Linked DNA regions of Homo sapiens. The gene in region 1 interacts genetically with each later gene. Each region holds a gene or a part of one and is shown in the gene's direction. Other genes may lie near its edges. The genes, in order: FAM120A and ARID1A.

Region 1 (3,816 bases):
GAAGAGCCCCTTATACAACCATCAGATCTTGTGAGAACTCATTCACTATCATTAGAAGAACATGGGAGAAACTGCCCCTATGATCCAATTACCTCCACCTAGTCTCTCTGCCTAGACACGTGGGGATTATGGGGATTATAATTCAAGATGAGATTTGGGTGGGGATGTGCAGCCTAACCATATCAACTGGTGTTCAGATGAAGAGGTTGTAGAAGCATATCTACTGCTTAAAGAGGGAAATTGGAGTCAGCAAGCTCTGGGCTTGGTTTTCTTCCACATTTAAAACAAACCCAAGGAAGAGATGGTGCAGCCGTGCAAGCCCCTGGTGGATCTGTTGTGTCTCACACAGGTTTTCTATTTTCTCTGTGTCTTCAGCAGTGTGCATCTTACTTAAACCGCCTCAGGGCTCCTTTCATCCCCAGGCCCAGTCCTCAGCTTGACACATCATAGGCCCTCAGCACCTAAGTGTTCTGAGAGGGAGTGCAGCTCCTAGAGGTCCATGTCCCATGTCCTCCTGCTTCCTGCATATCATTTGGGCCCCAGTCGGTCCTTGTTACTGCGGGTCTTGTGCTGTCTCTGGAACAGCCCTTTATGGGCACCATCTACTCACTCATTCACTTCTGTTGGCTGACGTGGCCCCTGAGCTCTCTTCCTGTGCTTAGTTAGGCCGCGCGAGGCCAGAGGTTGAGTGGGGAGGCTTCCAGCCCCTGCCTTCTGTCCCAGCTTCAGGCTGGCCTGGTTCCATGTCCTGCTGTCCTGCTTCAGCCATTCCTCTATGTGGCTTTCAGTCCTCTCACAGATTTCTTCATTTTTGCAAGGTAGCGTGGGAATGATGACTAGCACATGGCAGCACACATCAGGCAGGTTTATGAAATTATGTTTTAAGAGAACACAGAATCACAAATTACTCATCCTGTATATGTGTTAAAATGTGTAACCTAATTGCTGAACAATGAAAAGCAATTCCTTTTATATTTAAAAACTCACTAGTTAGCTGAGAACCTAATGGTAGTTGCAATGTACTTTAAATAGAAAAGTCCTCTTGCTTGACAAAGGTAAAGGAAACTGTTCGGTCCGACTTTGTTCCTTTCATGCCTGCCAGGGCTTCTGGTTTCACGGAGACCTCAGGCTAGGAGCAGCCCTGAGCAGGGAGACTGAGTTACAGAGAATCCCCACCAAGTTGCAGGCAGAGGGACAGCCGAGGCCCTCAGGAAGTACACGAGAGCAGAACCACTATGGCAAGTTCACTGAGAAATCTGGAAAGTTAGAATCCCAGCCCGAGTCCATCAAATGGAGCATCATAAAATTAAGTTTTCCTTACTGTGAAATGGCAATTTGTAATGATTTCTGAGAAGTGGGACCCATGGTGGTGTCGATGTCTGAGCCAGGTGAGGGTGAGATCCCTGGCGCCATGGGCTGGCCCCCAGGATGCCCTGGAAAACGCATTCTGTTCACAGCTGTGTGATTCTTTTCTTTCTGTGTTGGTGAAGCAGCCAGACCCGGTCCGTTTGGAATGCCTGGGATGGTGCCGCCGCATGTTCCTCCTCAGATGCTCAACATTCCGCAGACCTCTCTGCAAGCAAAGCCCGTGGTAAGGCCTTCCCTGCGTTGGGTCGGGTGGCGGGTCTCAGACAGGGTGCGTGCATTGAATTTCAACGAATGCTAAAATAAGTTCCTAACCTCTTGAATTGATACGTGAAATAGATGCCAGTGTTTGTTGAAATAAAAATGAGCCAGGAAACGTCAGCCTGGGCCTGAGTCGGGTCCTGCTGGCCACGTGTGCGTGACCTGTGCCCTTCGCTTCAGGCCCCACAGGTGCCCAGCCCAGGGGGCGCCCCGGGCCAGGGTCCATACCCGTACAGCCTCTCTGAGCCAGCACCTCTCACTTTGGACACGAGCGGGAAGAATCTGACGGAGCAGAACAGCTACAGCAACATTCCTCACGAAGGGAAGCACACGCCGCTGTATGAGCGGTCCTCGCCCATCAACCCGGCCCAGAGCGGCAGCCCCAACCACGTGGATTCCGCCTACTTCCCTGGCTCTTCTACATCGTCATCTTCCGACAACGACGAGGGCAGCGGAGGGGCGACAAAGTGAGTGGTGCGTGGGTCGCTGGGTGCTTCCTGGCGGGTAGTGACCTGGGGAAGCTGCCTTCTGGCCTGCCAGCCCAGCTGGTGTTTTGCTCAGAGATGTAGTTTATTGCAGGTGGGTGATGGTCAGTCTGTACTCAGATGGGGGCTCCTTGGACAGAGAGGAGAGAGGAAGAGTAGGTATGTTCTTGAAGTTTCCATGATTTAAAATCTGCACTATCCCAGCCCCATGGCCTGGAGCCACAGGAAACTTTCTGGGGAGGAATTTGACAAGAACTGGTTTGTGTGATGACCAAAACATGGGGGCATTTGTCCGGTGTGGTGCCACTCACACCCGTCACAGCAACCCCCTGCCGACCCCCGAAACATTAATCTTCTGGCTCCTGGATCAAGGGAGCTCTGAATTTCCTCTCCTTCTCCTAAACTCAGCAGGTTACAGGACACTTTGGAAATAACACTGTTTGCCCAAGCAAAACCCTAGAAAGCTGCCTAGACCCAGGCTGGAATTGTTTCCTTAGAGGAGTATTTTAAACACTGTGTGTCCCTGAATAAATGGGTTCACAAATACATAGTTGGTTAAAATTTGATCGAGGAAATCTTTAATTTGCACTCCTCCCTTTCTTTAAATTGTCTTATGTTTAAAACAAAAAAAACAGGGAAAGAATATTTCTTTTCTTTAAGTCAGTGTCTCCTTTTCCTTGGTGTGAACTCTACTTTACAGCGCAGATAACCAGGGCTGGTTGATGTTACATCTGTTTCTGATGTAGGAAATGTAAGAGACATAGGTGTCAGCTTCCATGCCAGTTCTTACCTTGTGTGTCACCTGAAGCAGGTGATCTTTTCCTCTCTGTCCTCTGTCCATCTGTGAAATGGGAATAAATGTCTGTTGACCCAGGGCAGAGCTTACTGAAGGACTCTCTGCCATCCAGGGATGCATACCCTGTTTATAGCAGAGAAGTATAACATTAATAAATGTTGATTTGTTGTATGTGCAGAGAAGTATAAAATTAATAAATGTTTATTTGCTGTATATGCAATGCCAAGACTCTAAAATGAAGTAAAGAGTTGCAATTGAATATTCAAATTTTTAAATTAACCTCTAGCAAGATAATATATTGAGTACCCATTGAATCAGAATCTCTGGTTGGGGCCCCCAAATTTGCATTTTAAATAAGCACCTCAGTCAGTCTTTAGCACACTGAAGTTTGAGAACAACTGCTTGATGGTCTTGGAAGCCCTTATGTGCCAGATTTCTAAGGCATGTGCATTTTGTTGTAAAACGTGACTCATGTCAGCAAGGTCCAAGTGTCTGTACAATACAGTTTTTGTCTTAGTAAGAAATGTTCTTTCTAAACTGTGAAACATAGGTAAGAAGTAAGACAAAAAGCAAAAGAAGTAAGCTTTATGACCCCAACAAGAGTTCCATGCTAGTGATGGAGATGTGGAAACCAGGTCAAGGTGCTGACTTGGGGACGTGGGTGGTGACTGGGGCATGTTTCAGTTGAGGTGCTTGTTCCTCCGGTGGGGAGGGATTGAGAAGAATGTGAGTTGCCCATCTAATTTGGCAAGTTGTCTTTGTTAGGATGAGCTGAACTTGGAGTGAGTAGGACTGCCTGAGCATGTCCTGTCTTTTCTGGGTATGCACTTCCTACCTGTCTGTGAAGGTTCTGGTCAGCTTTTTGGAGCTCTGGGCATCTGACCTCTCCAAGTGCTTATTGTCTTTATT
Region 2 (3,816 bases), on another chromosome or scaffold:
TGTAATTTAGGTATATTAGAGGAAGGAAGCTTCCCTTTATAAAGGAGGGAAAAGGGTAGAGGGAACAGTGTTTGATAATTCTGTGCTTGACACAGCATCTTCTATCGTCTCTGAAGGAACCAAATGTTTCAGAGCTTTGTGTAAATACTTGCTGAGCTGTCAATATGTACCCAGGAGGTTTCTGTAGTAAGATGTAAACTGTTCTATAGAATGTTTGACAGGCAAATTAATAAACAGTTTTCAAGCAAAGATAATGCTAGCCTCCTCATGTGGTGGAGTAAAATAACATTGGGGAAAAAGACTTGGGGATAGGAAAAGGGTAGTGCTGGGGGGCAGTGAGTGTGGAGATAAGAAGTGATCTAAAAAAAAATTGAAATGGAAAGATGCTGCCCTGGTAGTGAAACCTCTGTGGCCCTGGCTGCGTGCTAAGTTCAGGGCATGTGGTATCCTGTTAAAGTCAATTGCAGTTTCATAGTGAAAATAGAAGTTTGGAAAGAAGATCCTGACTGTCAATAGTAAGGTAAGTATTACCCCAGACACTTGGCTTATGAGACTTTGAGGTTTAAAGGGTAGCTTGGTGAGATTATTTTTGGCTTGGGTTTGCATTTCTGGAATATTAGAAAGGAGAAAAAAGATACTGCAACTTGAGTGTGATCTTTATCCTCAATTTTGCTGTTGTGCTGGGGATTATAAGTCCACTACCCAATGGCCTGGGTTTATTTATACAGTTTTTACTGGACTTCTGTGTATCACTTATGATAAAATTAATATGCCTTTACACTCTGTTCCTGGGTCAGTACAAAGTCCAAATATTTGGGGACTCACTACATCTTACTTGAAGGATTATGTGAGTAGATACAGTCTTTGTTTTTGAAATTGCCATTTTAGGATTAAAAACATATCTGGGTTCCTTCAGTGACACATTCTTTTTATGGAAGAAGAAGAAGAATCTATGAATATTTTAGCTGTCTGTCTGTGGTCCTCTTCTTTGGTAGCCTTGTGAGATGACCAGATTTGCCTTCTCAGAATGTCTTTTTTAACTAGATTCATTGATTCTGACACCAGTTTTCTTTATAAGAAGTGTTTTTTACACCAGAGTCCTGGAAGTGCCCTTTTGACTTAGCTGTTTATATAGTAGCAGGGAATATGAATGTAATTATGGTCCTGACTATGATTTTTAGGTTCAGCTAACTTACTACCAAAGGCTATCAGCTTGTTTTAATACAAAACACAAAAACTTGGATTGGCACTGACATAGGTTGCTTAATATTGCATGGTCCTTTCCCAGTATGTTGGTAGTGAGGGTATTAGGAACTTCAGACTTATTGCTGAGAGCATAGTTTCTAAGTCAGAGAGATCAGGAAATTCCAATGGGGATGGGAAATAGCCCTATGTGATTACACCAGCTAGGTACTAGGAAGAGATTTAAAAGGTAGAAACAATATCTCCTTCAGAGGCATTTAGTTTTCTTAGGAAAGCATGCTTATGTGCACACATCTGGAAAACTTGAAAAGCAAGGTTTCATAAATGGATGTAGACCACACTAATTATGTGAGCTGAAGGAATTAGAGGAAAAGGTTCAATCAGTTTGGCAGGGTTAACCTGGGACAGCTTTTCAGAGGCTTTTTTTGTGAAGCTAAATGTTCAAGAAACTTAGAATACTAATTTGCCTTTTCATAATGCTATTCTTAAGTTCCATGGGCTTGATAGAATCCACATTGCACATCCATCTCCAGACCAGTAGCTGTCTCAGTGTTCCAATGACTTTGAGAATTTGGACTCTAACCATAAAACTCCCTGAAAGAGTGGTTCCAGGGTCTTAGTGGTTCTTGTGGTCAGGTAGAGCCTTTGGTACAGACTGTTAAGTTCTTGGCTAGTTCAGGGGCACTTTTCTAGTAAATTTGGATTTGGAAGGTCATGTCACCTTCAGAGTTGTGTGCCCTGGACAGCTCTGTAGTAATGGTGGTTCAACTTTGTTGGTGAGTCTGTCTTGGCAGAGTTAGTTGACCTTTCTTAAAACAAGAGCCACGAAGTAAGTATCTGTTGGGACTCTTAGGCTGCTATTTCTGAGGAGCTGGGAGCTGTGTTCAAGTCAAGTTGCTTGTGTTAGACCTTATATTGAGGTTGATGGGTTAGGTAAGCCTGCACATATGCAGTCTGCCCATTTATTCATAGAAATGGCCTTTAATACTGTTTTTGGCCGGGCGCGGTAGCTCACACCTATAATCCCAGCACTTTGGGAGGCCAAGGTGGGAGGATTGCCCAAGCCCAGGACCAGCCTTGGGACCAGGCTATTAACATAGGGAGACCCCATCTTTACAAGACACAAAAATTGCTGGATGTGGTGGTACGTGCCTGTAGTCGCAGTTTACTTAGAAAGCTGAGGCAGGAGGATTGCTTGAGCCCAGGAGGTTGAGGCTGTTGTAAGCCATGATTACGCCAGTGCACTCCAGCCTGGGCAATGGAGCCAAGACCTTGTCTCAAAAAAAAAAAAAAAATTTGTTTTTTATTAGGTTACTATGGCCAAGCAGCTAACAAATGCTGCTCACCAATGCTTAATCCTTGTGGAGCCTCTGGAATATAGTGATTTTGGTTTCTTTACCTGCTGGTCGATCTGTGGTTGGGCCTTGGCACTTCACCGGTCAAGGATCATCAGTGGATGCTTAACAGCTGAAGATGCATGGCATGTCCAGTGCCAGGCCACTGTAATGCTTCTACCTGGAGAAGGATTGGTTACACTGCTCCAGTACAGAAGTACTGCAGACCTTTTTTTTTTTTTGAGATGGAGTCTTACTTTGTCACCCAGACTGGAGTACAGTGGTGCAATCTGGCTCATTGCAACCTCTGCCTCCCAGGTTCAAGCGATTCTCATGCCTCAGCCTCCTGAGTAGCTGGGATTATAGGCTTCCACCACCATGCCCGGCTAATTTTTGTATTTTTAGTAGAGGTGGGGTTTCATCATGTTGGCCAGGCTGGTCTTGAACTCCCAACCTCGGGTGTGATCCACCCACCTTGGCCTTCCAAAGTGCTGGAATTACAGGTGTGAGCCACCACGCCCAGCCTTTTTTTTTTTTCCCCCCCCCTCAAGTAATGGTCCATGACCTGCTGAAAGTACTGGAGTCTTGGATAAACATTCTGGTTTAGAAATACCTTTTCCACTTTTTTTGCCTTGCCATTTTGGCATTTTGCAAAAGTGGGTTTTCAGTTACTCAGAATTGGGCACCATAGTTAACCTCCTATGGATTACAGGTGTTTAGGGGCTTGAACTCTGATCATTCCCAGGTTTTAGAGGAATCCAAGTTCGGGTGAATATTGACTTAGTAGCCTTGAGTATTCTTCCTGAAATTACCCCTCCTCTCCATTTAAATGGATGAAATTAGTTTTTTACTGAATGTGAAGGGACATCTGAATGAACTTCTGTTTGTTTTTGTTAGTCACTTGTGCATAGCTGGAATATTATCTTGGGACAGGTTGAGTCTATTTCCCAGTGGCTTCTGCATTTTCTAAGGGTGGACTGGAATGGGAAGAAGTCTAATGCCAAGAATGCATTCCAACATGCTGCAGAGTAGGAAATTTGATCCCTAAAATGTTGACTTAGTGTTGGTCATGGTACATATTAGAAATCACCCAGTAATCCAGGACAGATTTTTGTCACCCTCCAGGAAGTTATGTTGATATAAATACTAAGGGGCTTTGGGTACTGAGCTAAGTGCTCTGCAGGCCCAAAGCGCTGCTTGAATTGCTACCCATATGAAGAGGAAATGTGCCATGTGCCTTTTTTTCTCTCTTTTGCATTTGGGCTTCCTTATGGCTTTG

Evidence for each region.
Region 2: changes in FAM120A (region 1) and ARID1A together harm fitness more than expected from each alone (negative genetic interaction), as found in Homo sapiens cells (one large-scale study listed by BioGRID).

What each region holds. Positions count from the first base shown.
Region 1 is NC_000009.12:93,514,177-93,517,992, forward strand, and holds part of FAM120A (constitutive coactivator of PPAR-gamma-like protein 1), read left to right. Parts: intron 1-1,490; coding exon 1,491-1,591; intron 1,592-1,806; coding exon 1,807-2,093; intron 2,094-3,816. UniProt on the Homo sapiens protein: Component of the oxidative stress-induced survival signaling. May regulate the activation of SRC family protein kinases. May act as a scaffolding protein enabling SRC family protein kinases to phosphorylate and activate PI3-kinase.
Region 2 is NC_000001.11:26,702,378-26,706,193, forward strand, and holds part of ARID1A (AT-rich interactive domain-containing protein 1A), read left to right. Parts: intron 1-3,816. UniProt on the Homo sapiens protein: Involved in transcriptional activation and repression of select genes by chromatin remodeling (alteration of DNA-nucleosome topology).